Regions from separate parts of the Homo sapiens genome. Here region 2 is linked to region 1. Evidence: fine-mapped expression QTL. A gene starts in region 1. The other region holds a variant in brackets. All regions are shown on one strand. Distances are from middle to middle.

Region 1 (4,400 bases):
ATCACGGGTTGCACAATGGGAAAAACTGGAGTCACTTCAGGCAACCACCTGCATTTATAAAACCCAAGGAACCCTCTTCTTTCCCTGTCTTTTTGCTTTAGGCTGGGTAAAAGGAAGCCTAGTTCTTGGGGTGCTTATCCAAGTATGATCCAGTTGTGAAAACTGGTTTGGACATCAGAAGGTCCAGGGCATCAGATAGAGTGTTTTTAGATGTCTCAGAACAATATGTCAAAAGGATTCAGCTGGTTATTAAGGCAGTGCTGCCAAACCTTCCCATTGGACTGACATGATTATTTGTCCTGGCGGGGCCATGGGTCACAAGCTCTTGACTTCCAGAAGCCTTTCTGTCAGACTAGATTTCCTATAGGGCTATCAAAGAATAAGCCTTGCTTGCATGTATGGCACACTTAAAATTTTTTTAGTTGACAGATAATATTTGTGTGTGTTTATGGGGCACTTATGATATTTTAATTCATGCATAGAATGTATAATGATCAAGTCAGGGTATTTAGTATATCTATCACCTCAAGCATTTTATCATTTCTTTGTGGTAGGGACTTTCAAATCTTCTCTTCTGGCTATTTTAAAATATACACTTTCAAAAGTAGTTTTGGGTGGGGGACTGGCAAATTGCTAGGAACCCTGCCACCCAGAATTCACATCTGCCTCTTCAGTAGTGACCCTGGAATGAGAAAAGGATACTTGTGTTAAGTGCATTTTTAAAAAGAATGTGAAAATTTGAATTACTTGTTTTAGATAAAAGCAATAATAATTTGAGACGTTCTAATGTTCATTCTTTTGTTGTTGTTGTTGTTGTTCCAGTGTTCTCCCAGCTTTCCTTGTGCAAAGCCAAGGAGTCCATGGAGGAATCACCATATTGAAGACACCTGTCCTGGTGCTGTTCCACCAAGTCTCTGGACCAGAACATGAAGCCTCATGATCCAGGACACTCAACGAGGGACACTGGAAAGCATCTTTACTATTTACATTCCATTGACAAAGAGCTGTGGTTAAGGACCTGGCCAAATTTGCAGTTGATGAGTGGTCCAGTAGAGACTTGAGTCATGCCCCAGACTCCAGAGCAATCCCCACTCCTTGGTGAATAATCTGTTTTTTAACTTGTCATTTGCCAAGTTGACACATCATACTACATACGGAGTAGCTGGTAAATGCACACTCCATGGTTAGTCTGCTTGCATTCAGATCCAGTTCCACCACCTACAAGTTTACCTGTCTTTAAAATTTTCTTACCTTAGGATGACAACAAATATCAAATTTTAAAAATCACACAAACTTGGCTACTCTGGAGAAGTCAGTGCTCCCTCTCTCTTCCCTGCTGCTCTTCCATTTGCCTGAGACCCTCTTTTCCATGCTTTTCTGTCTAGCTCCATCTTTGGATTTCAGTTTGGACTTAATTACCTCAGAGAAGCTTCTTTTGGCCTTCCAAGGTTGAGTTGGGATCCCCTCTTCTGGGTTCCTATGGCATCATTTCCCCATTCAGCAATTGCCACACTGCTTTTTGTTTCCTTGTCTATCTCCCTAACCAAACTGTGAGCTAAGGTGTCGACTTTGCTGTTTTTTTTTTACCCCAAGCATCTGATAGTAGTGCATAGTAGGTGCTCAAATATTTGTGGAATCAACAACAACAAAAAATAGATAGATGAGTGAATGGACAGATAGCGAGAAGAGAAAAAGGTCAGTAGACAAAGAGTCAAGGATATTCTCCTTGGGACTCCTGAATTCGGACCAGAGAGTAGGGAAACTGGGGAGGTAGGGGGCGTTGAGGGTGGGATGAGGTGGTGGCTCTGGACCTTAATCTCACGGTCTTCGTTCCCACGGAAAAGGGAGGAGTTTCTACAACCCAAAGACTCTCTCTGGCTCCCTTGCTAGATCCTGCCTTCTGCCAGAAGACCCCAGAATACAGGCAAAGCCGCCAAAGAACAACAGTTCCAACGGTAGGAGCAGAGCTACTGCCTTCAGTGCGCCTCGGATCTGCACGCCCTGCCTATCTTTGGGGTACAGAGAAGGCGCGTACCATGAAAGCCCCAACTTCCCCTCTTTCTTTTCTCCCACGGTCGGGACCTTAGGGTAGGAGTTTCAAGAGGGGAGAAGCCGGTGGAGCAGTAACAGCCTTCATAATGTCTCCAGTCCCGCTTCCGTCACCTCCCTAAGGCTGCGCCCCCCTCCTGGGGGACGTGCGCTGGGCCCGGGGCCGCCGGGGCGGGGAAGGGTCGGGCCCGGGGCGGGGAGAAGCGTTTATATGTCGGCGAGGGGCGTGGGAGCTGCCACCCGCTTGCCTGCGGGACACCGGAGTCAAGAGGCTGCCCACGCCGCTGCCTGTCCGTTCCACGGTTCCGAGGTCTCCACCGTCTCCCCGCGCGCCGCAGGCGGCACCAAACTCTGCGCTCCCCGCGGTGCGCCCTGCCCGCGCAGTGCGCGTCCAGAGGAAATCCGCCCCGGGCTTTCGAAGTGCAGGGCTGGGGGCTGCATGGAAGTTTCCCCAAGGTAAGTCCAGGAGCCAACGCTGGGACAGCAAGAGCCAAAACTAGGTTTACAAGTGATCAGTAGTTGGATGGGAGGGACCGGCCAGAATAGAGGAGGCTGCATGAGAAAGACTGCGGTGGAGGGAAATAAGTGAATTTCAGAAGCTCAAAAACTCCTCCTTTGGCTTTTCTCCTCCTCCAAACAAGAGTAACTGCCCTCACCTCGTCTTTCTTTTAATTTTTCGCATCCGACTGTTGAAGAACCTACAGCACACTCTTGTCATTCTCTGCTCCCATCTCCGCGTCTCCCACCGCGCACCAGGGCGCCTCCTGAGAGGTGCGTCACCCAACACTGTGTCCTCACAGCACAGGGCCTGGCGAGTGGCATGTACAGTGGACCACTCTCGGAAACAAATGAATGGAGTTAATCAGGGTGAGTCAGGAAAAGTCACTCCCAAGCCTGTACATTCCCAGTCTGTACTTTTGTTCTTGCACTTCACACAAATTTATTAAAGAGGGTTGGACTTTTACTGCTGTCTGAGGGGAGGAAGGAAAGCAGAGAAAATGCACCCTTTTCTCAATTCCCAGAAACATTCTACTCTGAGCGGAACCCCAATTACCTGGCTCAGTATCAACCATGCAAGTAATTTTGAAGAGGAGAGGAGGCAGGCTGGAAGAGGAAAAAAAATGTTAAAACTAGGAAGTGATTTTCTTTTCTTTTTTGTCCTTTTGTGACAAGGATTTCTCATTCTCTTGTTAAAAGTCTACTCTATGGATATATTTAAAGAGGACCTTTTGCCAGTGGATGGGTGTGGGGGTGATAGGAGAGAGGGGTGGTGACGGTGATTAGGAATATCTGAGACAGTAAAAATCCTAACACTTGTGGCAGGAAGGATAACAGCAGTTTTCTGTTAAGAATTCTATAGTTACAGAATTCAGCAGTCATGTTACTTTTTCTAAACTAATCTATTTAATGAGTAGTATTTTTAATATAAAATGTTCAATGTTAAATTTATTGTTCAGTGTCTTCATAGAGGAAGTCACTTACATAAAAATCCTGAAACTTCTAAATAATGTTCTTTAAAATACACAGCCTTAATAGTTCTTGTCTTTATAAAAGAGGTTGTCAATTAATTTCTCCTTTTTTTTGAGACGGAGTTTCTCTCTTGTTGCCGGGGCTGGAGTGCAATGCGCCATCTCAGCTCATCGCAACCTCCGCCTCCCGGGTTCAAGCGATTCTCCTGCCTCAGCCTCGCGAGTAGCTGGGATTACAGGCATGAGCCACCATGCCCGGCTAATTTTGTATTTTTAGTAGAGACGGGGTTTCTCCATTTTGGTCAGGTTGGTCTCGAACTCCTGACCTTAGGTGATCCGCCCGCCTCAGCCTCCCAAAGTGCTGGGATTACAGCAATTTCTCCCTCATTTTATTCCAAAATATTAGAAGTGCAGAGGAGAGAAAAAGAAGGAGAAAAAAAATACCGTGCCTCAAAAGAAGGTGTGTTTTGGATGTTGTGCCATGTGAAATCAAATTTTATAATGTTCATGAAAGATGTTAGGTTAAGCATTCATTGGAGAATCATCTTTGGCTTTTATATTTTAGTAATTTAAAAAATTTAATTTTGCTAAATTTTTTGTGAACCAATTCTCCGGAAATACTATTGTTGAATATAAATACTTGCAATTTTCATTTTTTCCATTCCCTTCAGATAGTCTGAATTTCAGAAAGTTTCAGTATTTTGAATATTTTGCAGAAAATATTTATTTATTTGTATAGACAGTATCAAGAGCATCTAATTAAGTCACCAAATGAAGATCAGGTTGTAAAAATTATGAATAAAAATTGGTGCCTTATTTAATAATCTCTATACTTAGTACACTATAAAGTCCCACTAATACAATGGTCTTAAAAATGACTAA
Region 2 (4,400 bases), 77 kb after region 1:
CAAGACAGGTCCTAATTTGTGCTTAGGACAGTATGACTAGATATGTTAAGAAGGTTGGAAGGACGTAACTTGGTGACCACTTGGTGAGAGAGAAGTCTCACACAGGCAGTATGCAAGTGGGATCCAAAGCAAAGGGCTGTCTATCATCAGGGTATCTCTGATTTATTTCTACTCTTAGTTTTTATAAGCAAGAACTCTGGATTGTGAACCATGAGCATTCACACTTTTTTTGGTAACAAAAAACTTGTCAAGTTTTCAAGACAGATCTCAGATTACAATAGAAAAAGCTCATTTGGATATGTGCCCTTTCTCAGGGAGAAAGAGGAGCCCCTGGACCAGTGGGAGAGCAAGGTACTAAGGGATGCTATGGCACCAAAGGTCCTAAGGTAAGGATTGCATAAGAGTGTGGAGTTTTCTCAATATTAATTACATTTTCCTACACTAACTATAACTGTCCTTTTATTTTCAGGGAAACAGAGGACTAAATGGACAGGAGGTATGTTACCAGGCACATCCATTTACCTACCCATATGTTATCTAGAAATATTTTTATTTTTGAGATTATTTATCAGTAAATTATACAAATAAAGTTGTCATTGACTTTCCTTTTTTATTGCCAGCCATTTCATTTTGTTTCTTCTTCTCTTTCATTATAGGCAATACATATTATTTGTTGATAGTTTCTATTACTGAGTAACCTTTAATATTAATAACCCAGGCCCAGCCTCACAAGGAGGCTGTATGTGAAACACAAAAATAGAGTTTTTGTTTGGCATCTGACTTCTTTACACATGCACGTGATGTACTCTGTTCTAATCATATCTATCTTTTCAGGGAGAAGTTGGGGAAAATGGAATTGACGGATTAAACGGAGAACAGGTAGAGCCTTCTTGTACCATAGAGACCCTTCTGAGCTATTTACCATTATGAAAACGAGAATTCTATTAATAGCTTTCCCTTCTTGTTTTTTAGGGTGATAATGGTCTTCCTGGAAGAAAAGGAGAAAAGGGAGATGAGGGATCTCAGGTAGGGATTTGAAAAGGAAGAACATAAAAATTGTACTGGGGATTAAGGGTGTGATTAACAGAGTAGAATACTCAGTCAGCTATTGCTACAAAACTGTTTTGTGACAGTCATAAAACCTCAATCACATACAACGATGAACATTTATTTCTTATGTTTCTGAGGGGTTCAGCCGATTGAGGCTGGACATGGCTCATGTCTGTAAGGTGGCCGGGGGCTTTACTCCATCTGTCACTTACCCTCCTGGGACCAGGAGCTAGCCTAACCATGCTAGCCATGACCTTTTTATGCCCATGGCAGAAGCACAAGAAAGCAAGTGGAAACATACTAGAACTCTCAGGTCTTCTTCAGACCTAGGGTCAGAACTCTCTCAACACTTGCATCTCTTTCTGTTGGCCAAATCAATGCATATTGCCAAACTCAGAGGAAGGGAATCTTGCCCACCACAGTTGGAAGTCATTGTAGAGTTACATGGCAAAGGACACAGGAATAGGGAGAGGTGAAGAACTGGGGCCATCAATGACAAGCAACTACCATAGTAAGAATAGAAGTGGGGTGTTGACAAGGGTCAGTGGTGCCAGGCAGCACATTGAAGAGTGAATGTCCCTCATGCCCACCTAGAATAAATACCAACAGCAGCCATATTTTCATCCTCTACTTTGTCTTTAGAGTGTGAACAATTGAGTCAGAAACAACCATCTTGGGCAAAGTGCATATTCTTTCTGAATCTCAGTTGCCTTATAAAAGAAAGATAATAAGGAATACCTGGTTCATAGAATATTTGTAAAAAACAAGATGACAAGTGTGTCTGGAACACAGAGTTCACCACTGTGGCAAATAATTGAGTTCACTATTAAATTATTTATATGGTGCTTGAAACTAATTTTTTCGGTTGTTCATCTTTCCAGCTTAAAAATAGCCTTTGTAGAAAAATATTTAATTATTCACACCAGGGAGAAGAAAAGCTCTGTTTTTATTAATTTTATTAAAACTTCTTGTCTTGTTTTTCTTCTGATTTGTATTAACTTTAGGGAAGCCCAGGGAAGAGAGGGACTCCTGGTGACCGTGGAGCAAAGGGCCTGCGAGGGGATCCCGTAAGTGCACGGGCTGCAAACTGGAGTTAGG[G/A]CTTGATTCCCATCCGTACTTCTGATAGGGAGTCTCGATTTCAAGGTACTACAATAGTAACCCTGAGTTTAAAACACCACAGGCATGATTGTAACATTTTAAATTCAGGTACCTGTGCTAGATCCTCTTCATATACTGAATGAGTATGAGCAGTAAAAAGCCCTTACATGTCTTTTGCAAATGCAATTTTGTAAATACATACTCAGAATTGTTTTTGTGCTTCAAAACAATGAAGAAATTCTGGTCCACTTCATTATCTTCCAAGCACCTCAAAATACAAACACAATGACAGAAAGAAAGCCATGTCTTTTTTTTCTGTTCTTGTGTTAGTCTGTTCTCACATTGCTAATAAAGACATACCTGAGTCTGGGTAATTTATAGAGGAAAGAGGTTTAACTGACTCATAGTTCCACATGGCTGAGGTGCCCTCACAATCATGAAGAAAGAGCAAAAGGACGTCTTATATGGCAGCAGGCAAGAGAGCTTGTGCAGGGGAACTTCCATTTATAAAACCATCAGATCCCATGAGACTTACTCACTACCACAAGAACAGTATGGGGGAAACCACCCCCATGATTCAATTATTTCCACCTGGCCCCACTGTTGATATGTGGGATTATTACAATTCAAGATGAGATATGGGAGGAGACACAGCCAAACCACTATCAGTTCTCCAAGAATTTTTCTCAAGAATATCAGTCTCATTTCCTGTAACCCAGGCCAAGTAGAATTATATTAGGCAAAACTTATGACATAAAGGCACTGCCCTTGCAGGAGCACAACCCAGCTGAGTAGGCAGGACCCATGTTAAAGAAAAAAAAAAAGATACCAATATATAGGGAATATGCCAAGTCCGATAGAACATCAGTACTATAGGATTTTCATCACCATACCCACACTTAAGTAAGTCTCCAAAACCTTAATGAATTAAGATTTAGCTTTGTTTTAAAATGTTTATTGAACTGTAACATACATCAGAAAAGTCCCTGAGTTATAAATACACAGCTTAATGAATGTGAATACACCTGTGTAGTCACCACCAGGTAAAGAAATAGAACATTACCAGCATCTCAGAAGCCCCCTCATGCCCACTGCAGCCACTACTCACCTTCCCCCAAGGTAATCACTATCCTGTCACTATTAATTAGTTTTATGTGTTCTAGAACTTGATATAAATGGAACCATATAAGTGTCTGCTCTTTTTTTCTGGCTTCTTTTGCTTTATACTTGTAAGATGAATCAATGTTGTGTATAACAATAGTTCATTCAATTTCGTGGCTGCATTGCATAGTATTTCATTGTGTGAATATACCATGATTTATTTGTTATACTAATGATAGGTGGGTTGCTCCCAGTTTTTGCTTTTATAAGTAGTGCTGCTATGAATATTCTTATATATGTCTTTTGATGCACTTTTTTACATATTTATATTGGGTCTATATTTTAAGAGTAGAATTTCTGGATTATAATGTGTATGGCCATACTCAGATTGTCTTTACAGTCAAATGGTTTTCAAAAGTTTGTATTTATTTATACTCCCACTAGCAATGTATGAGAACGGTATTACACACTCATCAGAATGGTTACAATTTATAAAAAGCAATACCAAGTGCTGATAAGGATGTGGGACACCTGGGAATCTCATGAGGATTTTTGTTTTCTTTAATATAACCTCTTGTATACAATGGGTTGATCAGAGAAGGAATTTGATGCAATATATATGAACATGTAAATGTTAGGCAACTGTATTTAAAAACAGAGGAATTTGCGCATGAGGAAAACATTGTTGACTAAGTGACATCTTCTGATAATGGTGTCCTGAGAATTTTCAACTTCAAAGAATCTAATTTAGAACCAAAGAACTATCCACATATAAGCACAACTTAGAAATATTAGTTCAAATACAAAGACGTTTCAGTTATCCATATATGATGACCAAAAATTCATTTGGGGCATTGCTATATAACCTCCACTGATTTTGATCAGAATTTCTCCTAAATTGTCTGCTAAAGATCGTGTGATTGTGTAACATATTTTAAAGAGTCTGAATAATGTAAAGAGCTTTCTATTTTAAAAGAAATGCTCTATGACTTCCAACTGTAAAACAACTCTGTTTTTTTACATGTGGCTTCAGTGCATTACTATTTCAGGAAAAATTGGGGATAAATAAATAGAACACACATGATCAGTTTATTCTTAGGAAAGCATGTAAATGATGCTAATTTTTGAAACCCTAAGTTTATTCAGATAGG

What was found. PIP is the estimated chance that this variant, and not a neighbour inherited with it, causes the effect.
Region 2: its variant is the best candidate, but not a certain one, in a credible set for the expression of COL6A6 in lung (TOPMed, PIP 0.82).

The regions. Positions count from the first base shown.
Region 1 is chr3:130,514,893-130,519,292 of GRCh38, forward strand. It overlaps COL6A6 (collagen type VI alpha 6 chain), which reads left to right and starts at 2,285. Exons shown (of 37, transcript NM_001102608.3): 1 at 2,285-2,505.
Region 2 is chr3:130,592,227-130,596,626 of GRCh38, forward strand. COL6A6 (collagen type VI alpha 6 chain) reads left to right here. Exons shown (of 37, transcript NM_001102608.3): 14 at 315-386; 15 at 470-496; 16 at 835-879; 17 at 973-1,026; 18 at 2,055-2,117. Among named protein-coding and RNA genes, the nearest start is that of COL6A6, 77 kb to the left of the region's middle. The variant G/A (reference allele first, on the strand shown) is at 2,149.